Homo sapiens: one gene and its partners. The protein of the gene in region 2 purifies or fractionates together with the protein of the main gene of each other region. This does not show direct contact. Each region holds a gene or a part of one and is shown on either strand. Other genes may lie near its edges.

What was found.
Region 1: the proteins of PRP4K (region 2) and ZC3H18 purify together in Homo sapiens (co-immunoprecipitation; 5 studies listed by BioGRID and IntAct, with this or other methods). This does not show direct contact.
Region 3: the proteins of PRP4K (region 2) and PRPF6 purify together in Homo sapiens (affinity purification with mass spectrometry; 3 studies listed by BioGRID and IntAct, with this or other methods). This does not show direct contact.
Region 4: the proteins of PRP4K (region 2) and NUDT21 purify together in Homo sapiens (affinity purification with mass spectrometry; 2 studies listed by BioGRID and IntAct, with this or other methods). This does not show direct contact.

Annotation. Positions count from the first base shown.
Region 1 is NC_000016.10:88,629,369-88,632,481, reverse strand, and holds the end of ZC3H18 (zinc finger CCCH domain-containing protein 18), read right to left. Parts: intron 1,998-3,113; coding exon 1,901-1,997; intron 1,382-1,900; coding exon 1,183-1,381; 3' UTR 518-1,182; downstream 1-517.
Region 2 is NC_000006.12:4,017,352-4,024,329, reverse strand, and holds the start of PRP4K (serine/threonine-protein kinase PRP4 homolog), read right to left. Parts: upstream 3,031-6,978; 5' UTR 2,905-3,030; coding exon 2,864-2,904; intron 1-2,863. UniProt on the Homo sapiens protein: Serine/threonine kinase involved in spliceosomal assembly as well as mitosis and signaling regulation. Connects chromatin mediated regulation of transcription and pre-mRNA splicing.
Region 3 is NC_000020.11:63,991,095-63,998,145, reverse strand, and holds part of PRPF6 (pre-mRNA-processing factor 6), read right to left. Parts: intron 4,740-7,051; coding exon 4,661-4,739; intron 3,231-4,660; coding exon 3,054-3,230; intron 2,820-3,053; coding exon 2,664-2,819; intron 1-2,663. UniProt on the Homo sapiens protein: Involved in pre-mRNA splicing as component of the U4/U6-U5 tri-snRNP complex, one of the building blocks of the spliceosome.
Region 4 is NC_000016.10:56,434,333-56,441,332, forward strand, and holds part of NUDT21 (cleavage and polyadenylation specificity factor subunit 5), read right to left. Parts: intron 5,415-7,000; coding exon 5,325-5,414; intron 498-5,324; coding exon 422-497; intron 114-421; coding exon 1-113. UniProt on the Homo sapiens protein: Component of the cleavage factor Im (CFIm) complex that functions as an activator of the pre-mRNA 3'-end cleavage and polyadenylation processing required for the maturation of pre-mRNA into functional mRNAs.

The DNA of each region.
Region 1 (3,113 bases), on a different chromosome or scaffold from region 2:
CGTGCACCTGGGAGGCCGCTGCCCAGGCGCAGGCCTGTGGCTTTCAAGGTGGAAAGCAGGGAGCAGCAGCGGTGGGTCCTGGGGGGCTCTGCCGGTGGCCCCTGCTGTGGAACGTGGCATCACACGCGGGGCCTGGCTCAGCAGGTCTGGGGCCTGCACACGGAGCCGGTGGTGGTCACTGCAGTGGTGGCAGCTGGGCTTGGGGCTGGGAGTCAGCCCTGGACCTCTTCCCCTCCAGCAGCTCCACGGCCCCTGCAGGGAAAGTACCTCCACCTCACGGACCAAGGAAGCCCCAACCCAGCCCCACGAATGGGGAAACTGAGGCGCAATGCTCTCCTGGGCTGGGTCTGAAGGCAGGAGCTGCTCCACAGCCGGTCCTCCCGGGGGGAGTGAGTGCACAGCCACACCCTCGCCCCCCAGCGGCTCCCGAGTGCTGGGCCGAGTGCAGTGCACGACACAGAGGCAGCCCCGGCTGCGCATGGGCAGAGGGCGCACACACCACGAGGGCAAGGACAGCTGCTTATCAAAATATTTTATTTTAGGAGACCCCTCAAAAAAAGACCCACCACATTAGACAGACGCCCCAACAACACCCTTGGCCTTTTTTTGGTCTTTTCTGTATTTTTTCCTTTTTAAATCAACTAAAACAATTTGATGCTTAAAATAAAAGACAGGAAATATTTCCTGATGAGACTTTAGTCGAGAATATAGATATATTTCTGATCCGGGGGCGGGTGATCAGGGGCGGGGGAGGAGAAGGATGTGCCACCAGTGGTTCGCGAGGTTCCGTTTCTCAGCTCAGGAGGGAGCCTGGCTGCCTGGACCCGGGCTAGGGACCCAGAGCTGGGGCTCCACAGGCCTGACCAGGGCCAGGGAAGAAGACGGAGGAGGAGGAAGAGAAGGCGGGGCTGGCGGCTGGGGCTTGTAATTTACATGAGAACCGTGCTGGTCACTAGCGCTGTCTGTGTCTGTCTGTCCTGCGGGACTTCTGCTCTGGGGAGGGAGGCTGGGATTCAGCGTCGTTGTCATTTCCTGTGTGGCTTCTTTTCCAGCTGAGAAACTTTTTTTTCTTTTTTACTTTTTAAAAAGAATCACAGCCAAAATAAGACATTAACTGCAAAATCCAAAATGGCTGCGCTTACCCTATGTATAAAAATGCGTCCAGTCCGGTCGGGGCACGGCCTATGCTTTCCCGGGGATCTTGGCCCGCTTGCGTGCAATAGCATCCTCCACGGCCTTCAGCTGTTTCAGCAGCTCCTCCCGCCGAGACAGCGTGCTGGCCTTCCCTGATTTGGTGCTGGCGGCGCCGGGATCCGAGGCTTTGCCGGGCACGCTCGTGACCTTGCTGGAGCTCTTGGACTGGGGTGACAGCTGGCGCTTCCTACAAGGGGGTGGGGAAGACCTTGAGCCCCCAGAAGCCACGTCTGCAGGTGGAAGGGGTGACCTCCCCGTAGGGGCGCTTCCACTGTGTCCTCAGCGGCCACCAGGACAGGCAAGGGGCTCCCTGGATGGCCAGGCTCCCACTGCCACAAGCAGGCCTGGTCCTAGCCACTGGCTCCCGGGCTTTGTGGAGCAGACTGGGAGGGTCCTGGGCTGGCCCCGCACAACCTCCTGTTATTCTTCCCACCTCTGTGCCCAGGGATCTTTTGCCCAAGGGCATGCGGAGCAGAGGGCACCCTCCAGCCTCAACCAGGGCAGGAGCGTGTGTGTGTGTGTGGGGGGGGGTGGGGGGTGGGGCTGCAATTCGCTGTCCATGCCCCTCACCCCGTCAGACCAGCAGGAGCTGTAGTGACGCCTCCAGCCTGGCCCAGTGCTAGCCCTGCTGCTGCTGGCCTCCCTGGGGAAGCGACTGGGGCTGGCCCCCTCGGTGTGCCCAGGGCACATGCTGGGTGGGACTCACCTGTCAGCCGGGGCTGCAGGGGCTTTGGAGTTCTGGCCTCTCTGCCGCTCTGGCTTCGGGGAGCCCAGTCTCCCACCTGACTTCCGGTCCCGAGAACCTGGGTGATAGGTACAGAGTGAGACCACCCTCCTGATGTACAGGGAATGGCTGTGTGGGTGGCCTCACCGATGCCAGGGACTCACTTCTAAAGCCTGAGGCTGCTTAGTTCACCACCTTCATTTTTATAAAGAAATAAAAAGGGGAGAGCCAAGTAGGAGAAGAGAGATGTGGGCACCAAGGCATCTGGAAATGAGGCTGAGGCCAAACCTGGGCCCCAGGTTCCAGCAAGCAGCCAATATCTCACGCAGAGAGACAAAACTCCTTCCTAGCTTTGAAGAAATTTATCACATGGGTCTTCAAATACGGAACAACAAGAAAGACATGGCAGTAAAGAAATACAAGCAAAGCCGAGAGACTAGGAGTGTTTCACTCTGGCAATGTTAGGAGGGAGGCGCGGCAACCGAGGGGGGGGCCACTGCCCAGCGCAGGCCCAAGGCTGGTGCGAGAACAAAGGTCCGCAGGACCCCAGAGGCCCTGGTTCCAACCCCAGGCAAGGGCAGCAAGGCTGTTCCAGACCAGCCACACAGGGCACAGGCCCTGGGCTTAGGGACAAAGGTGAGCAGCTTCCTCTTCCTGTGTCCGACAAACCCAGAGAACTGCTTGGGAAGGGGTCTGGAAGCCCCCTGCCTGTTCTCTGTGTCTGGGAGTGTCTGTGCGGGTGGCCAGGCCCCCTTGTCCTCTATCTGGTTTGAGCTCCACCCATCAAAGCCAGCCAGGACAATCTCCCTGTCTTTCCATCTGGGCCCCAGCTCTTGGGGTGTGGTCAGCATGGCTGGGGGTCCCCGAGGCCCTTTCAGGTCTGTGTGGTTCAACAGTAATATAGACACTATCTGCCTCGTCACTCAGTCCGCAGGAGCCTGGGAGGATCTCCAGAAGGCACGAGGCATGTGGGTCCAGCCGTCTTCCGTCAGCCAGACTGAAGAGATTTGCAAAAATGGAAAAACCAATGCCATTCCTGCTCATTTGTTTTGGAAAATATATTTTGCAAAAATGGCACATGTGTAAAAAAAAATACAGTTGCTCTTGTTGCCCAAGCTGCAGTGCAATGGTGCAATCTCAGCTCACTGCAACCTCTGCCTCCCAGGTTCAAGCGATTCTCCTGCCTCAGCCTCCC
Region 2 (6,978 bases):
GTCTCACTATGTTGCCTGGGCTAGATTCAAACTCCTAGGCTCAAATGATCCTCCTGCCTCAGACTCCCTAGTACCTGCAGCACTTGAGCCCAGTAGTTCAAGAACAGCCTGGGCAACATGGGAAGACTCTGCCTCTACAAAAATACTTAAAAATTAGCTAGGCATGGCTCGGCACGGTAGCTCACGCCTGTAATCCCAGAACTTTGGGAGTCTGAGGTGGGCGGATCACGAGGTCAGGAGATCGGGACCATCCTGGCCAACAAGGTGAAACCCCATCTCTACTAAAAATACAAAAATTAGCTGGGCGTGGTGGTACGTGCCTGTAATCCCAGCTACTCGGGAGGCTGAGGCAGGAGAACTGCTTGAACCAGGGAGTCCAAGGTTTCAGTGAGCCAAGATCGCACCACTGCAATCTAGCCTGGAGAGAAAGTGAAACTCCGTCTCAAAAAAAAAAAAATTAGCTGGGCATGGTGTCATATGCCTGTGGTCCCAGCTACTCCGGAGGCTGGAGTAGGAGGATCACTTGAGGCTGAGGCTACAATGAGCCATGATAATGTTACTGTACTCCAGTCTGGGTGACAAGAGCTCGTGTTTCAAAAATAAATAAAATGAACAAAAAGAATTAATGTAGCTATAAAAATCAGAATGGGTCCAAAAGACCAACTAGTCTTAAAACATTCCCTCTGGTCTCTGCTTTGCCAAATCAGGTTTGAGAAATTAGTTCTCAATAAATTAGACATGTCACATCAAAAAATGTATCTTTCTGGGACAGTGGAAAAAAACAAAAATAATTTCATACTTGACAAGCAATTTAAAAAGAAGCCACATTGTATAGTGGGAGGCCAGACAGTACAATAGTTAGCAGCAGGGCTTTAGAACCAGACTGCCTGAGTTTAAATGGGTGTGCCACTGAGTGTGACCTTGAGCAAGTTACTTAATTTCTCTGTGTTTCAGTTTCATCATCTCTAAAATAAGGAAAATAAACGTATCTACCTCCATAGGGTTGTTAAAAGAATTAAAGCCTTCAGGGAGCTTAAAAGCTGCTTCTTATATTTATTCTTTCTAAATTTTCTGTTTTGAATAGATTCTATATAACTGTAAACTACTCAGTGTTCTCTAAAGAACTGTTGTAGACACTATATTCAGGGACTCACTATGAGCACCAGGCATAGTTTGCTTTCATACCAAATGGTTATCTTCTTTGTTAAATACTTTCAAACTACTGAAAGTGAGACATATACAGACCAAATATTCCATTTACACCAAGTGCTCTGTGGGGAAGGGAAGGGAAATTAAAGATTATCTCTGTTACTCATACAGCAGAGGCCTAAATATGTATTTTTGAAATTATTAAGTCTAATATTATTTGAATACAGTATGTGAATAAACTATGGCTGACCCACTCCTGGAAATGAATCTGAAACATCCCTAAAATCAAATAAATGGACATAATATTACAGAACTTTTCAGATTAGTAGAAAATGTAACCACATAGCATGAGATCTGCACGGTACTGGCATAAACACTGTAATTGTGCCACACAATGAACTTGGTGAGAAACAGTAAGAGGTTAAAGCTAATTTAAAACTTCAGAATCCATTTGTTCTCTGCTAAGTCAAATTGTAAAAATAATACAGCAGTTTTGAAAAGCCCTTAATTAAAAATTCCGTTTCTCTGCCTAGCTGAGTAATGCAGATGATTGAGGAGCCCAAAACTGGATGCACAGCAATTAAGTGTCAGGTTGTCTGGTGGCAAAGATTTCTTCTATCGCTCAGTCACAAGTTGCTGGGAGACTATACCTCTTTCTAAGATGGCTGGAAACAGATCAGACAGTGCAGATGCAAAAAAAAACAAAAAACAAAACAAAAAAAAAAAACGGTCGCTATAGGAACATTGCCGTAAAATCCATTCTCTCTGTTAAGGTTCTTGTTTGAGTTTTCCTAACATAGACATGAACAGCAAAATACTGCTTTAAGTTAACCAATGGTTAACCTTTGCAGCATACACTCGTATTTTTTTTTTTTTCATTTTTCATTTGGCCGCATGGATTCTTAATGTTAGCTTAATTATAGACATAAAGTGGTTTGGCAGTAGCTAGCAATTCCCACTACTCCTTCCACTCGTCCTCCTAAAGAAGGGTTATAAACTCAGGCAAAAAAAAAAAAAAAAAAAAAATGCCAGGCCTCAAAACCAAAGACTCTATCTTACTTTGCCTCAAGTTTGCAAGTTGGTAAAAAAGCTGCCGGTAGGCACTCAAAACAAAACAAAACAATACTGGGTGACTGCTGGACTAAAGAGTACAAGGTGACGAGATCAAGTATCCCGCTAGCCACAGACTAGCTCTGGGATGGCCAGAGAGTGTGACCCCAGCACCTCCGCTCTCTGCTTTCAGGTCCTAAACTGACACCAGTAAAAGGACGACTGGGGGTACCGCATGAGGAAGAAAAGACTTAGGGCTTGGCCCGCCTGCTGCCACTGACCCTCGTGTCCCCAACACAGATGCCGCTAAGAGCTGCGGCCAGGGAGCTCAGATGGGTCCCCAAAAGAGGCATAGGAAAGCGCGACCTCACTGCCGCGGCAGCCGCCACGCGCACCGGACCTGTAGAGGCCGCTCGCGCCTACGCCTCCCGGGGCAACGACGCGCGGCAGGCCGCGGCCGCCTTCACCCCAGCAGCCACGGCCTCTGGGAGAAGGAAGCTCGAAGGCCGCCTGCTCCCCATGCCTCCCACCCCACAACGAATCGCGCCGGAAAAAGCAAAGTTTGACTCTCGCCGTTAGGCCCGAACTTTCCCGCCACCCCGTGCAGCTCCCACTCGGCAGTCCCCGGGCTCCAGCTTCTGGCCCACTCACAGAGACTACTTACTCTGGCTGCTCCCGTAGCGACTGGGTCTCCGCGGCGGCCATCTTGAACTTCCTGACTCCTCGGCGGCGGTGGCGGCGGCTCCCGGACGGTGGAGGGTAGGGGAAGTGGAGGAAGAAGGAAAAGAGCTGCCGCGCATGTGCCGACCGTGTAGGGAAGAGCTGGGTTCTGAGTCCGCGCTAAGAATCCGGATATAAAACCCCACGTCCCGGGACTAGCGCAGGGCGTAGTGTCGCAGCTTCCGGGAGCATGGTGGGCGGTGCTGCTAAGGATTGAGGTCGAGTGTCAAGCTTGAGCTCTTCAGTCAATGCTAGAAATGGACGTTTAGTTATTGAATCCCGCTAACGAGGGGAGCCAACAAGAGAGGGATGTCGGCATCGGGTGTGCGGTTCCAAGAACTGATTGGCTGTGGAGATTAGAAGTTAGGTGAAAATTCTCTTAAACTCGGGCAAACGAATTGATGATTTTTCCCCTGGTCGGTGTTAGAGACACAGTAAATGCTTAACCATCTCGCTAGACAGCTCAACTGAAGTGGCATTAACTTCCCGGGAAAGTGTGTAGAAAGGCATTTTTAAATACTGTAAACTCGAACGTAAATATCTTTTAATGTGGAACTGTTACTACATTTAACACTGAACATCTTTTCAACTTTTACATAGTTCAAGGGTGACACGATTCAGTTCGTTATTTCCGTAATTGGAACGTGTAATGTTTTTTGGCCCAAGTTGCGTTATGTGATTTTGTTTTCTTCTATAACGACTCTACAGTAATGGGGTAGAATGGAATATTGTGGGGAAAACATTTACTGGCTCTTGGAGAACTCTCAAAACCAATTAGGTTCTTTAATTCCTCTTTAAAAAAATATTTCTCGCCTGGCGCTGTGGCTCACCCCTGTAATCCCAGCACCTTGGGAGGCCGAGGCGGGCGGATCACCTGAGGCCAGGATTTGGAGACCAGCCTGGCCAACATGGTGAAACCCCGTCTCTATTAAAAATACAAAAAATTAGCTGGGCGTGGTGGCGCTCGCCTATAATCCCAGCTACTCCGGAGGCTGAGGCAGGAGAATCGCTTGAACCCGAGAGGCGGAGTTTGCACTGAGATCACGCCACTGCACTCCAGCCTGGGCGACAGAGCAAGATTCCATCTCAAAAAAAAAAAAAAAATTATCCATACTTTGGAACCTGGAAGCAGCGTGACGATCACTTTCATTCTTGTAATCATCTGAGTTTGCCTTTGTCCTAGAAAATTGAGTTCGGAATCTCCAGACTCCATACATATCTCTTGATTTCCAGGGGAGAAGGGTTTTAAATGTTCTTACAAAATGTCTCTTGTTGCCTGAATTCCAAACGTTTTGAAATGTTAGGGCCGGGCGCGGTGGCTCACGCCTGCAATCCTCTAGCACTTTGGGAGGCCGAGGCGGGCGGATTGCCTGAACTCAAGAGTTCGAGTCCAGCCTGGCCAACATAGCGAAACTCCGTCTCTGCTAAAAATACAAAAAATTAGCCGGCGTGGTGGCGCCTGTAGTCTCAGCTACTCGGGAGGCTGAGGCAAGAGAATCGCTTGAACCCGGGAGGCCGAGATCGCGCCATTGCACTCCAGCCTGGGCAACAAAAGCAAAAACGCCGTCTCAAATAAATAAATGAAATAAACTTAGTAAACTATTTTTAAATAATGTTAAAATTAACGGTGTACGTAGTAGAACTGTGAGAGATCTCATCTTGGAAATAGAGTGATATACTTGAAGGCAAGAGATTGGGTCAGGTACTATTAACACGTTTTACACATGAACAAACCGACACTAAGAGGTAAGGTAATTTGCTTATGATTGAGTTCCCAAGTACAAAGCTGATTTTTGAACTAAAATCTGACTCGAAAATCTGCTCTTTTCTTATCAGGCTGCTTCCTACAAAAATATAACCTCGCTTAGCATCTGCTTGTTAAGCATCCACCCTCACAGCTCTTTGGCATTCAAATGTTTGTTGAGTAGGGGTAATAGAGCACTACGTTCGAATCAGAAAATGCCTTATTTTTCCTTGCTTGCAAGAGCCTATTATAAATAAATGCCTTGTTTTCGCTGTGTCTCTTTCTTGTTGTCGAGAGCTCAGGCTGGTCTTAATTTCTGCAACCATAGTATTATCTCCCAGGTCTCCTTCTGCCCTGTGTATTTTGCAGTTATGCTTTATGTGGAGATGAAGCATCCTAAGTGTGGAGAACGATATATGGGGCCCGAACAATAGGTGCTGAAGCCAGATTGTGTGACTAAAGTTGGTATTTGAACAAACCAAGTGTTTATTTTTTTAAAGAGCATGGTAAAAACTAAGTTTCAAAAATCGATGCTGGCAAAAATTTCCTTGAAAAAATTCTCACCAAGTTCACTTGCACGGTACTACCTGGGGAATGAAACACATTTGTCAAGGACACGCCCAAAACTATGTTGCTGTTGTAATTTTCAAAGACTGGGAACTGCGGCAGGGGGAGTTACAATTAAAGCAAACATCGGCGTATCAGTTTATTCATTCAGCAAACGTTTATGAAGCAACAAACGTATGCCCAATATTTCAGTCTTGCTGCTCTTCCTCCCCAAATTCAGGAACCTTTGCAACGGAAAGCGGCCTCGGGCAGGCGCCTTTTGAGCAGAGGAGTAAAACCGGTAAGTCAGCAGTGGAACCCGCCTCCCCGGAAATCCTTGGAGGGGGCGGGGCCCTGGGGAGCGCGCTCTTCCCAGCGGCAGCTGGGGAGGCGCATGCGTACTTGCGTCATCGTTGGGTAGCAGCGGGGAGGCGTGGGAGGATCTGAGGCCTGCGGTGGGCCTTGGTCCCTTCTCTCCCCGCCCCGAAGCCGCCTGCTCAACCTGAGGGCCACCGGCCTCTATCCGTCGGTGCCGATGCTCCTTGCTTCCCAGCCAGAGCGTCTCATCTCTGGGCCCGGAGCCCCAGGCTCGTTCTCCTCAGCCCCTGCCGGCGGCGGCGCTCTTGCAGCCATTCCTGTGAGGTCGTTTTTCGGAGCAGCCGGGCCGGCCGAGGAGTAAGTAGGCGCCAGAGTTCTAGCTCGGGCATCTGCCTCGGGGCCCTGTCGCCGCCGCGCCCCGGATCCTGCGTTGGTCCTGTCCGATAAAGCGGAGGTCGGCCCTGCTTGCTGACGAGACCGTAAAAACCACGGCGCTTGGCGCCCTGCCGCCGCCACACCACACCAAAGTGTACCTGCCCGAGGCTGGCTTCGGGCGCGAGCTTGCATTTGTGACTTTCTCTTACCGTCTTTGTTTGCTTCGTTTTAAGTATTACTTCCAGATAAGGGACACATTCTCGAAATACTTTGAAAACAGTTTTGAATTTTGTTCCTCCCGTTGAAACGGATTAAATTTGGACCTTTCAAGCTACACTGTGCAATCATCAATCTCAATAAGCTCTTAATAGGCTCATTCTTCCGTAGGCTACAAACAAAATAAAGATCATAACATCCTGCGGAGGAAGCCATTGGTCCATGTAGAGTCGCCAGATGTCAATTAAGAGTAGATCGCTTTTCAGAGAATACTTAACGACTCTGGTTTAGACCTAGACTTGGAACTTTGAGGTGTTTGGAACACTGGGCAGAATTTTCCTTTGTTACAAAACAAAGTTTATGAGAACGTAATTTGTTTTTGTTGTTTTTGTTGTTAGTATTGAAGCAATTTTGGTGCAAACCAAAGGATAACAAAGCAAAACAATGAAAATCACCCAGAGTTCCATTACCCACACTGAACCAACTTGAATATATTGGTTTATTTTGGCTTTTTTCCATATGAAATGTTAAATTTTCTTGTACTCACGTGTAGAATATGATAGTTTGCTCTTTCATGTAACATGTCTCCCAATTTTTACATACATAATTCTAGTTTCAGTAAGCATTTTTATAACTACACTCTTTTTCCTTTGTTATTGTATGTCTAGGTTATTTCAACTTTGCACTGTTGCTTGTAACTACTATGTGATGAGGCAGTAGCTAGATTAGTATTTAGAACGTGAGCATTCAAGTCAGGCAGACCTGGGCTTCACAACTTACTGTGCAATTTCAAAGAGTTTAACTTTTTTGAGCCTCATTTTACACAGTAACATGGGGATAATGGTTCTGATTGCATAGAA
Region 3 (7,051 bases), on a different chromosome or scaffold from region 2:
TCCAGCCTGGGTGACAGAGCAAGACCCCGTCTCAAAAAAAAATAAATAAAATTTTTATTAAAAAAGAAAGAATAGAAAGCAGGGTCTCTGACAAATATCTGTACACCCGTATTCACAGCAGCATTATTCACAATAGTCAAAAGGTGAAAGTGGTCCAAGTGTCCGTCAGCGAATAAACAGGTCAGCGAATGCGGTCTACATAGATGAGCGAATGCGGTCCACACACACCAAAGAGTCAAGTCTCATCCTGCCTTAAACTGAGAACATGCTGGCCGGGGCGCCGGGGCTCATGCCTGTAATCCCAGCACTTTGGGAGGCCGAGCCACGTGGATCACTGGAGGTCAGGAGTTCGAGACCAGCCTGGCCAACATGGTGAAATCCCATCTCTAACTAAAAATACAAAAAAATCACACTTCTAATCCCAGCATCCTGGGAGGCTGAGGCGAGTGGATCACGAGGTCAGGAGATCAAGACCATCCTGGCCAACATGATGAAACCCCGTCTCTACTAAAAATACAAAAATTAGCCAGACATGGTGGCACACGCCTATAGTTCCAGCTACTCGGGAGGCTGAGGCAGGAGAATCACCTGAACCCAGGAGGTGGAGGTTGCAGTGAGCCGAGATCACACCACTGCACTCCAGCTCGGGTGACGGTGCCAGGCTCCGTCTCAAAAAAAAAAAAAAAAATTAGCTGGGCTTGGTGGTGCACACCTGTAGTCCCAGCTACTTGGGAGGCTCAGGTGGGAGAATCATTTGAACCCGAGAGGCGGAGGCTGCAGTGAGCCAAGACCATGCCATTGAACTCCAGCCTGGGTGACAGAGAGAGACTCTGTCTCAAAAAAAAAAAAAAAAAAAAGAACATGCTGACGCATGCTGCACCATGAGCTAATTGAAATAAGCCTGTCACAGTAAGGTAAATACTGTATGATTCCAGTCATATAAGATCCAGAGAGTAGTGACATTTATAGAAACAGAGAGAACGGTGGATGCCAGGGGCTGGGGAGAAAGCGCACGGGGACTCAATGTTTAACAGGTACGGAGTTTCAATTTGGGAAGATGAAAACAGTTCTGGAGATGAATGGTGATGAGGTTGTATAACAACATGAACATAATTATGTCAGTGAAGGTATGTACAGTCAAGAATGATTAAAATGGTAAATTCTGTGTTACATATATTTTACCACAAAAAAATTACTGTGACAGTTTTATTTATTTATTGAGACAGTCTCACTCCGTAACCCAGGCTGGTGTGCAGAGGCGCGATCATAGCTCATGGCAGCCTCAAACTCCCTAGCTCAAGCAATCCTTCCACCTCAGCCTCTCGAACAGCTGGGACTACAGGCACCACCAGGCCCAGCTATTTCTTTTAGTTTTTGTAGAGACAGAGTCTCACCATCACCATGTTGCCCAGGCTGGTCTTGAACTCCTGACCTCAAGCAATCCTCCTACCTTGGTCTCTCAAAGTGCTAGGATTACAGGCATGAGTGCCTGGCCCAAAAAGTTTTACAATTTCTATGTAAACAAATTTCAGGCTGGGCATGGTAGTTCACACCTGTAATCCCAGCACTTTGTGAGGCCAGCGCGGACAGATCACTTGTGCCCAGGAGCTCCAGCCCAGGTTGGGCAACCTAGTGACACCCCATCTCAACAAAAAATACAAAAATTAGTTGGGTATGGTGGCACATGCCTGTAATCTCAGCTACTTGGCAGGCTGAGGTGGAAGGATCGCCTTAGCCCAGGGAGGTCAAGGCTGTATGTAGCCAGCCATGATTGTGCCACTTTTTGTTTTTGTTTTTGTTTTTTATTTTGAGACAGTCTCACTCTGTTGCCCAGGCCGGAGTGCACTGGTGCAATCTCGGCTCACTGCAACCTCCAACGCCCGGGTTCAAGCAATTCTCCTGCCTTAGCCTCCCAAGTAGCTGGGATTACAGGCGCCCGCCACCACACCTGGCCAATTTCTGTATTTTTAGTAGAGACGGGGTTTCACCATGTTGGCCAGGCCAAAAGTAGTATGTTCCTTCGTGGTATCTGATATGCATATCAGAAAGAGTTCTGTACTTCACTGGTGTCTAGAGCACCTAGTCTCCAGATCAAAGTACACGTTCCATGCAGGGCCACAAGACAATTTACTGAGAGGCAGGAAAAAAACACACTTTTTAAAAAATTATTATTTTATATTTTAAAAAAAGGCCAAGTGCAGTGGCTCACACCTGTAATCCCCGCATTTTGGGAGGCCAAGGCAGACAGATCACCTGAGGTCAGGAGTTCAAGACCAGCCTGGCCAACATGGTAAAACCCCGTCTCTACAAAAAATACAAAAATTAGCCGGGTGTGGTGGTGGGCACCTGTAATCCCAGCTACTCAGGAGGCTGAGGTAGGAGAATCACTTGAACCCAGGAGGTGGAGGTTGCAGTGAGCCAAGATCACACCATTGCACTCCAGCCTCTGAGTGACACAGCAAGACTCTGGGTCAAAATTTTAAAAATCTGCGGAATTATTCAGGCAAAAATCAAGCCAAAAAAAAAAAAAGGAGAAGGAGAAGAAGGAGGAGGAGGAGAAGGAGGAGAAGAAAAAGGAGAAGAAGAAGAAGGAGAAAAAGAAAACAAAACAAAATTAAACTGTCTAAACCTGTCCACAGGAAAATGCTGTGTGACAAACTCACCTGGCTCAGCCTCATGTCCATCAGAGTGTTCCTCGCTTGGCCAATCTTCCTCATGTCCAGCTCACCTGTGCCAGGTGTCATCAGTCCTGGCGTCATTCCACCTGGGTATGGAGTGTTTAGTCCACCTGGATAGGGTGTGTTAAGACCTCCAAATTGCTGGAGGGGAAGAGAGGAAAGGCAAGAATAAAACAACGGTTTGCACTGCATGCCCAAGAAATTTACTCTCTGAAATACTTCCCCAGTGGCCTGACATATGCACAGCTGTGCAGACAGACTCGGCCACAGCATAGCCATGACCTGCAGAAGCATTGAATCCAACACCACCCACCATTCCTGCCACTGATCTAACAGGACTAAATGGGCCACATGTGCCCTTTTTTGGAAGCTCACAGTTTGTCGGGGATCCACTGAGGTATGGTTCTCTCCGGTCTGTAAATGTTTGGCAAAGAAACTGTCAGGAACAGGGGTCAGCTTCTCATAGCGTGGGTTCCGCTGACGTTTATTTCTGGCATCGCCAACCTCGGGGATGCTCAGCCACTCTTCTTCTGTGACTTCTGCCAACTTCCTCTGGAAATATCCAGCCCCCAAAAACATTAATTCTCTGACAGAATTTCATGTGCCCAGGTAGGACCATGCCCTCTCTCACCCCTAGCCTCCAGATCACCAAGCTTTAGAAGGGATTTGGATGCAGCAACTGTTTTTTACTTTTGTTTTGAGATGGGTCTCATTCTGTTGCCCAGGCTGGATTCAGTGGCACAATCACAGCTCACTGCAGCCTCAACCTCCCAGGCTCAAGTGATCCTCCCACTTCAGCTTCTCAAGTTGCTGGGACCACAAGCGTGGGCCACCATGCCTGGCTAAGTTTTTATTTTTTGTAAAGACAGGTTCTCCCCAAGGCTGGTCTCAAACTCCTGGGCTCAAGTGATCCTCCCACCTCAGCCTCCCAAAGTGCTGAGATTACAGATGTGAGCCACTGTACCCAGCCCCAAAAATAGTTTTCTACTTCACTTAGAAAAATCAATTTAGGCCGGGCACGGTGGCTCATGCCTGTTAATCCCAGCACTTTGGGAGGCCAAAGCGGGCAGATCACCTGAGGTCGGGAGTTCGAGACCAGCCTGACCAACATGGAGAAACCCCATCTCTACTAAAAATACAAAATTAGCCGGGCATGGTGGCACATGCCTGTAATCCCAGCTACTAGGGAGGCTGAGGCAGGAGAATCGTTTGAACCTGGGAGGCGGAGGTTGCGGTGAGCTGAGATCGCGTCATTGCACTCCAGCCTGGGCAACAAGAGCCAAACTCCGTCTCAAAAAAAAAAAAAAAAGAAAAAGAAAAGAAAAATCAATTTATTGGATCTGTTCAACTTCACTAAAATGTAAATTATTCTCTCAAAGCCCAGGGGACACAGTTTAGAAAATCTTACGTATAAATGGGGCCAGACGTGGTGGCTCACGCCTGTAATCCCAGCCCTTTGGGAGGCTGAGGTGGGCAGATCACTAGAGTTCAGGAGTTTGAGACCAGCCTGGTACACATGGCGAAATCCTGTCTTTACTAAAAATACAAAAATTAGCTGGGTATGGTGGCAGGCACCTGTAATCCCAGCTACTTAGGAGGCTGAGGCACAAGAATTGCTTGAACCTAGGAGGTGAAGGTTGCAGTGAGCTGAGACCACGCCACTGCACTCCAGCCAGGGCAACAGAGCCAGACTGCCTCCAAAAAAAAAAAGAAAAAAGAAAAAAGAAAATCTTAGGTATAAATGGAGTCAAAATTACAAAGAAAATAAGTTCATTTGTCCTACCTTTTACAGTAGGGGAAGGGTTTTTTTTTACACACATATAATTAAACATACTGAAGCAAACACTTTCTTCTTCTAAGCAATGACCCCCTAAATTAAAAACGTAAAGTCTCATAAATTCCACGTAAGAGCAGTCTGAGTCTCTGCGGGTTAGGGTGAGAGCGTTAGAAACCGCACACCATTCACCGCTTCATCGGCTCACCTTGAGGTCTGAGAACTGCTGTTGGATTTTGGGGCGTTCCATACGATATTTCTCTATTTCTTCTTTCTCCCTTTGCTCCCTAGGAAATAAAACATGCACACATCAGAAACACTGCATGTCTGTTCTGAAGCAAATTTATTATCCATCTCAATTAAATCACCAAAAAGAACAATTCCATACTCTTAGTAGCTAAATCAAATATATATATATATATATACATATACACACACACACACACACACACACACACACACACACATTTTTTTTTTTGAGATGGAGTCTTGCTCTGTCACCCAGGCTAAAGTGCAGTGGCGCAATCTCAGCTCACTGCAACCTCCACCTCCTGGGTTTAAGTGATTTTCCTGCCTCAGCCTCCCAAGTAGCTGGGATTACAGGTGCTCGCCACCACTCCCAGCTAATTTTTGTGTTTTTAGTAGAGACGGGGTTTCACCATCCTGGCCAGGCTGTTCTCGAACTCCTGACCTTGTGATCTACCCACCTTGGCCTCCCAAAGTGCTGGGATTACAGGTGTGAGCCACCGCACCCAGCCCAAATCAAATATATTTTAAGGTAACTATGAATACATTCTTAGCTGGGCATGGTAGCACACACCTGTAATCACAGCTACTTGGGAGGCTGAGGCAGAATCATTTGAACCCAGGAGGCAGAGGGTGCAGTGAGCCAAGATCGCACCACTGCACTCCAGCCTGGGCAACACAGAGAGACTCTGCCTCTAAATAAATAAATATAAATACATTCGTAAGTCTACTAATTCAATTATCCACCAAATAAAAACATGTAGAAATTCATTAAAATAAAAAAAAAAGATCTTACTTTGATCTAAATACCTCCATTTGGACATGTGTATATTTACTGCTTGAAAATTCACAAAATCCCAAAGGTAGGACCATCCCATAAACACCTAAGAAGGCCAGGCGTGGTGGCTTACACCTGTAATCCCAACGCTTTGGGAGGCCGAGGTGGGCAGATCACCTGAGGTCAGGAGTTCAAGCCTGGCCAATGTGGTAAAACCCCATCTATACTAAAAATATGAAAATTAGCCAGGCGTGGTGGCGCATGCCTGTTATCCCAGCTACTCAGGAGGCTGAGGTAGGAGAATTGCTTGAACCTGGGAGGTGGAAGTTGCAGGGAGCCAAGATCATGCCATTGCACTCCAGCCTGGGTGACAAGAGTGAAACTTCGTCTCAAAAAAATAAAAATAAAAATAAAAATTAGCTGGGCATGGTGGTGGGCACCTGTAATCCCCAGCTACCTGGGAGACTGAGGCAGGAGAATCATCTGAATCCAGGAAGTGGAGGTTGCAGTGAGCCAATCTAGCCTGGGCGACAGAGCGAGACCTTGTCGCAAAACAAAACAAAACAAAACAAAACAAAAAAACACCTACAAGGAAAAACAGTAACTATCCTAGTTACCACCAAACACTCCAAACACTCTACTGAACTCATCCCACCTTTCCTTCCTTGCTTCCTTCTCTTCCAAGTAAATAGTTCACCTCTAACCAACTCAGCTCAGCTGCACAGCTCTATGTGCCAGAACATAACCCATGTAATTGCACTTCGGTGTTGAGACTACATGTGAGGATATGGTATTCACAGTACTGTTCTTCCTACTTGTTTGTATTACGACAGTTTTCAGAATAAAAAGTTTTAATAAGTACACTACTTTTTTTTTTTTCTTTGAGACAGTCTCACTCTGTCACCAGGCTGGAATGCAGTGGTGCGATCTCAGCTCACTGCAACCTCCGCCTCCTGGGTTTAAGTGATTCTCGTGCCTCAGCCTCCTGAGTAGCTGGGATTACAGGCATGCACCACCACACCCAGCTAATTTTTGTATTGTTAGTAGAGACGGGGTTTCACCATGTTGGCCAGGATGGTCTCGATCTCCTGACCTCATGATCTGCCCGCCTCGGCCTCCCAAAGTGCTGGGATTATAGGTGTGAGCCACCGTGCTCGGCCAAGTACACTACTTTTTAAAAACATTTAATTTAATGGCTTTCTTCATGGGTCCGTGTCACCTGCTGTTTTTTGTTTTGTTTTTGTTTTAGAGACACGGCCTTGGTCTGTTGCCCAGGCTGGAGCACAGTGGCATAAGCATAGCTCACTGTAGCCTCTAATTCCTAGGCTCAAGCGATGCTCCTGCCTCAGCCTTGGGAATGTAGCTGGAACTACGGGCATGTGCAACTGGCTAATTTTAATTTTGTTTTTGTAGAGACAGGGTTTCACCATGTTGCCCAGGCTGGTCTCGAACTCCTAGACTCAAGTGGTCCTCCTGCCTTGGCCTCCCAAGGTACTAGGATTACACATGTAAGCCACTGCACCCAGCCTGATGTTTTTTAAAATGCATTAACCCTGGAGGTTCCAATCAATTTTT
Region 4 (7,000 bases), on a different chromosome or scaffold from region 2:
GCTCAACAGCTGAGGGAGACTAGAAATGATGGGTCCATATCCTGGTGCATTGTCATACAATTCAAACAATGGTGCAGCTACCAGCTTGTAATTTTTAGGGACTGCAAACAAGGCTAAAATAAAACAGAATTCATTATTATAAGTTATTATATAATCACTGCTTCCATTTCATTTTTAAATTACCAATTTTACATTTAATAAAAAGTGTAAGAAAAAAGATAATTCTCATTAATACATTTTGGTTGTGTCTTTCAAGGTAGATTTCCTAGCCACAGATTTGAAACTAAAAGCATGGTATACATCTTTAGTTTTACAACAAACCCAAAAGTTCAAGGAACTTTGAGAAAACACAAATAGAGGTATCCTTGAAATTATTCTACAGAATTTTTAGATGGCTACCTTTGAAAACAAAATAACTTACCTTTTTCTTGAAGCTGAACCAGAAACAACTTCTTATGTTCCTTAGGCTTTGTAATATGTGCAGGAATATATGGATACTGAAATTACAAATGAATACAACTTTAATATGTATTCCATGGCTTCATTTCTTTACATGTTTACTCCCCAGTATAGTATAAACTGTTGGGAGAAGCATACTACTTTCTGTCCTCTTTACCAGGACTTATCTAACAGATACACTAGTAAATAAATGCTTTAATGCATATAAAATAACAAGCAGTAAACCAGTCAACCATTCGAGATAAAATATGTAGTCACAGGATTTATAGCTTGAGATACTTAAAACATAATGAAGTCCGATTTTAATTAGTATCTTTAATAAAAGCTTTTTTTTGTTTGTTTGTTTTTTAAGACAGAGTTTTGCTCTTGTTGCCTAGGCTGGAGTGCAATGGCGCAATCTCGGCTCACCACAACCTCTGCCTCCCAGGTTCAAGTGATTCTCCTGCCTCAGCCTCCTGAGTAGCTGAGATTACAGGCATGCGCCACCATGCCTGGCTAATTTTGTATTTTTAGTAGAGGCAGGGTTTCTCCAGGCTAGTCTTGAACTCCCGACCTCAGGTGATCCACCTGCTCTGGCCTCCCAAAGTGCTGGGATTACAGGCATCAGCCACCATGCCCAGCCTAAAAGCTGGTTTTTTAAAAATATATATATAGGCTGGGCACAGTGGCTCACGCCTGTAATCGCAGCACTTTGGGAGGCCAAGGCAGGCGGATCATGAGGTCAGGAGATCAAGACCATCCTGGCTAGCACAGTGAAATCCCGTCTCTACTAAAAATACAAAAAATTAGCCAGGCGTGGTGGCGGGCGCCTGTAGTCCCAGCTACTCGGGAGGCTGAGGCAGGAGAATGGCGTGAACCTGGGAGGCAGAGCTTGCAGTGAGCCGAGACTATGCCACTGCACTCCAGCCTGGGCAACAGAGTGAGACTCTGTCTCCCAAAAAAAAAAAAAAATTATATATATATATATATATATATATATATATATATATATATGATCAGTAAGTTAAACAGTCTAGAATCCTGTTGTAGACCTGTTTACATTAAAAATTCAAATATAAGCTGTGAGGCATTTGACAAGATGCTTCTTGCTCCTCCTTCCAGCCCCAACCTCAAACCTCCCCGTATGCCAAGGTGCATGCTTCAGGAATACCAGAAGAGCAGTCTAAGTGAAGTTTTGCCAGATGGGCAAAGCCAAATTACTCGAGGAAACAAATATAAAAATATATATATAATATATATGTATATTTTAGAGAATTTAAAGGGATGAAGAGAATTAGAGAGGGAAGTTGCTACCCGGGAAGGAAAAATTCTGACACAGAACAAAAAAAAAGTCTAAGGGTTATACAATTCTTGTATAAATCTCTCCACAATACATTCAGAAATCTACTTTTGCTGTTGGAGTTGTATCTGAGAGCTGGGGAATTTAAAATTGCTGAAAACAGATATAAGGGGAAAGTGAGATAAAAGCAGAAGCTGCCAAAAGGAGGTATTAGCATCATCCTCAATTTACACAGAATCACATGCTAAGAGAGGCTAAGTATCTTTCCCAAGATTACTCAGCCAAGTTGTGAAGCCAAGATTTAACTGTATCTATTCAACTCTTATCTAATTATAAAAGCCTATGTTATTTCCCACTGTGTTACTCATTGGCACCTAACCAGTATTCCAGTTAGAATAATTATATATCAGAGCCATCCCTAGGGTACAATGAATTGAGGCAATTGTCCCAGGCTTTGGAGGTTCCTTAAACTGTCATGAAAACCAGATACATTAACAGTCACAGAGAAAGTGGCCTGAATAGCACAAGCTAAGAGATCTGTGGATCACATACAATAAAAGTTCCCAAACCATGATCAAACAAAATGAGTAGCATTTCCCCAAATTTCTTCTGCTCAAGGCTACATGTTCCTATTTTTTTAAGCCTTTCTTCTCTGGTCTTAATGTTTAAGTTGACTGTACTTTATACAAAAAGACTGAGATAGGAAGATGATATGCTCCTTTTCCACTGACATCTAACTAATACTCTAGGCTTCCTAAATAAATCAATACACTTACCTTATGTCAAATACCACCAGGGCCAACTCTAGGCCTTACTGAATGAAGAGAACTGTCCTAGGACAGTGGTAGGGGAGATGAGTGAAGATATTCAGAAAAGTTATCTGGAAAACCACTGGGGTCACTACTAAGCATTTTCCAATTAGATCAAGGCATGTTCAGGAAGCCAAAAAAAAGTTTAGAATAACTGTACTATGTATCTTTGAACAAGTAACTTCACTGTTTCCATATGAAATTGTTCTTCCTTAAAGCCAAGATGTGTTCCTGGCAATTCTTAGGTAGTGAACACCAGCATCAGCTTCCACAGCCCCTATCTTCTTGTCCCTCTGCCATACAAGGGAGTCAGAAGCAAGAGAAAAGAACGATCTTTTGCTTGGTTGATATTTTGTGCAATGCTTGACCTGAAACATCTTGTCATGTAAAGGAGCTATAAAGTCATAGGGCTTTTTAATTTGCCTAAAGAATTCAGGATCCAACTTTAAGAAGTTCCACCATTAGCAAAAATAGGAATATTTGAGCATCAGTAACATCATCACTCATTATCATGGATTAAAATATTTCAAATTATTTAAATCCAAAAGGTCATACTGACACTTTAAAGGTCACTGAAACATGCTTTTTGTGTGTGTGTGCCCCACATTACGCTACCTCTGATTTCGGGGCAGCTATGTTTGAAAAGTATCAGAGGGTTCCCTGTTTGCTGCCACTGTCTCAACAAGCACTCAAGACTCAACATGGAAATGCAAGGGAGTTCATGCAACCCTTATCCAATGGGGTATAGGAGTCCCTACATGGTTCCTGGTCCTTAACAGAACAAATCCAGTTGCCCACAGGTGTAAAAAGATCAATAACATGCCCTGTCTTACTTCTGCTGCTTCTGGTCTCTCTCTCCCCTGTATTCTGCTGCTTCCTGGAATCACCTCTCAAACTGCCTGTACCCAAGTCTTGGTCTTACCCTCTCTTTTGAATAAAGTCAAGTCTTTAGAGGATGCTAAGGAATTAAGTCATTCTTCTGAAAAATGTTAAGTAAAGGAATAGCAGCATATTTTTTTTTTCTACACAAACCACACACTTCAGTAATACATAAGTTTCTTTTTATATGAGGATCACAACCCTTATGAATTCATAGACCAGGAAATGATCATCAATGAGCTGCTAACATTACAACAAGAAACAACCAAATATTTTTAAATTCCTGATGGAAGTACACTATACCAATTGTGATAGACTGCCTTAAGATGACCCCCAATGATTCCTGTCTCCTGGTATTCACTGCTTTGTGTAGTCCCTCCTATAGCGTACCAGGGTTGGCTTGTGTGACCAATAGCACACAGCAGAAGTGATGGTATGCCACTGCCAAGATTAGGTTATCACAGACTGAGGCTTCCTACTTGGGCACTCCTCTAGCACTCTGTCTCTCACTATCTCTTGGATCACACAGCCTTGGGTAAGCCAGCTGCCTGAGAGTTGTCCTTTTAGAGATGTTCTCATGGCAAGGAACTGAGGGAGACCTTGAGACAACAGCCAGCAACACCTGAAGCAAAGCTTTAGTCTAACAGCCCAGATGAAACTAAGAAGTTTGCTAACACACACACGTGTAAGCTCGGGATCAGATACTTTAACCCCAGTTCCACCTTATGATGCAGTCCCAGCTGACAACTTGACTGTAACTTCATGACAGAGCCTAAGCCAGAACCACCCTAAGCAACTCCCAGAGGCCTAAAGGCTGCTAAATTTTGAGGTAATTTGTTATGCAGGTATAGATTATATACCGCCTATGACAAGCCTTGTTACCCCTCCCCAAATTAACTGAGCCTGAATACAATTTCTAGATCTAACTATCAATTTGCAAGACACACAGGGGAAACAGCTACATATTCAACAACAACAGGGGAATGCAATCGAAATGGAAACATTAGCCTGTTTTCATTAACAAATAAAACACAAGGAAAAAAAAAAGGTGCCAAGTGTGTAAAAGAGACTTTAGAGACTATCCTAATCCAAACAAATTATAAAAAGAAAATAGAAATAATCAGGATACGCGAACAGTGACTATATATTTGACAATAATATGGAATTGTTTATTTTTAGTATGATAATAACAGTACTATAGTTATCTTTTTAAAGAGATCCTTATTTTTATGATTCACACTGAAATATTTACAATTGAAATGAATAGCTAGGATACACTTCAAAATAATCCAAGATGAGGGTAGGAGAATGAAGCGGTGGAATGAGGGGTTGTGATGTGCTAACTGTTAAAGGCAGACGACGGGTAGCGCAATTCATTCACTTTTACCATTCTCTCTTCTTTTGTATTTGTTCTATTTATTTATTTATTTTTTGAGAAGGAGTCTCACTGTTGTCCAGGCTGGAGTGCAATGGCACAATCTCGGTTCACTGCAACTTCTGCCTCCCAGGTTCAAGCAATTCTCCTGCCTCAGCCTCCGGAGTAGCTGGGATTACAGGCTTGTACCATCAAACCCAGCTGATTTTTACATTTTTTAGTAGAGACGAGCTTTCACCATGTTGGCCAGGCTGGTCTCAAACTCCTGACCTCAACAGGTGATCCACCCGCCTCGGCCTCCTGAAGTGCTGGGATTACAGGCATGAGCCACCTCGCCCGGCCTTGTATTTGTTTTACATTTTCCTTTAAAATAAGAAGTGCTTGGCTTAATTTTGTAATTTAAATTAAGGAGGGAAGAAAAGAAAATTTCAAGTCAAATTCTACTTTAATCTTTTTTAAAGTGGCTAGAATTAAACGAGCTTTCTGCTTCCAAAATGCCCAGCAAATGTAACTGAACACTGACCTGAGGAGGTTCAAAATTTGGTCTCCACCAGTTACCAATGCAATCGTCAATGACCCAGTCTTGCAAAACTCCATCCTGACGACCCAGTATCTGTCAAAAAGAAATAAGCCAGTAAACAACTAAATATATGTACTCACAAATCCCCTTCTTCAGTGAACAGAAAATTCTTAGCAGTGCTCCTAATTGAAACATAGGGATAATATGCCTTCCATACAGATTTTCTATGATTTGTTAATATAGATGTCACTCTGCCCAAGACATACAATATTAGTTCAAAACTGGCAAGCTAGTATCAACATAAAAATTGTGTTCAAAATTCAGCTTTCATTTTTATTAATTTGTATAGCAGAACACTAAACTTATTTTAACCAAAGTCATACTCTACATATTTTAAGTGGCCAAAAATAGTTCTACAATGTTCATGGTGAGAAACTGCAGTTCTCTGTCCTGCTTCACCCATTCCCACTGGCTGTAACTTTCAACTCTTGGTTGTTTTTCCCCTCATGTTTTCTTCTATTTTTAAAAGCATTCTTCTTGGTCTTAAATAAACGGTTTATTTTAGGATAGTTTTAGATTTACAGAAAACTTGCAAAACTTGTTCAGAGACTTCTCATATACCCCACACAGTTTCCCCGACTGTTAACATCTCACACTAGTAAAGCACATTTGTCAAACTAATCAACCAATACCAAGACAAGATTATTAACTGAAGTCCATATATTATTCAGATATCCATAGTCTTTAACCTAATGTCCTTTTTCATTTTTCAGTCCCAGGATCCCATCTAAGATACCATATTACACTTAATCTTCATTTCTTCCGAGGTTCCTCTACATTGTGACAGCTTTTCATACCTTCCTTGTGTTTGATGATCTTGATAGCTTTGAGGAATACTGGTCAAGTATTTTGTAAAACATCCCTCAATTAAATTGAAGTTATGAGCTTTTGGGAAGAAAACTACAGAGGTAAAAGGGCCATTCTCATCACGTCATATCAAAGGTACATGCTATATCAATATGGCTTATCACTAATGGGCTGAGGTACTGTTTATCACGTTTCTTCAATGTAAAGTCATATTTTTCAAAAAAAAAATTTTTTTTTGAGACGGAGTTTTGCTCATTGCCCAGGCTGGAGTGCAATGGCGCAATATCGGCTCACTGCAACCTCCACCTCCCAGGTTCAAGTGATTCTCCTGTCTCAGCCTCCGGAGTAGGTGGGATTACAGGCACATGCTACCATGCCCAGCTAATTTTTTGTCTTTTTAGTAGAGATGGGGTTTCACCCTGTTGGTCAGGCTGGTCTCGAACTCCTGACCTCAGATGATCTGCCCACCTCACTCTCCCAAAGTGCTGGGCTTACAGGCATGAGCCACTGCACCGGGCCTCAAAACTACATTTTTTAAGAGATAGGGTCTTGCTCTGTCACTCAGGCTGGAGCACAGCGACGCAATCATGGCTCACTACAACTCCTGGCCTCAAGCAATCTTCCGGCCTCAGCCCCACAAAGCACTGGGATTACAGGTGTGAGCCACCATGCCCAGCCAAAATATTCTTTTATGACAGTTTCTTGATTTTCATTTTATTTTATTTTATTTTTTTGAGACAGAGTCTCGCTCTGTTGCCCAGGCTGGAGTGCAGTGCCGCAATCTTGGCTCACTGCAACCTCCACCACCCAGG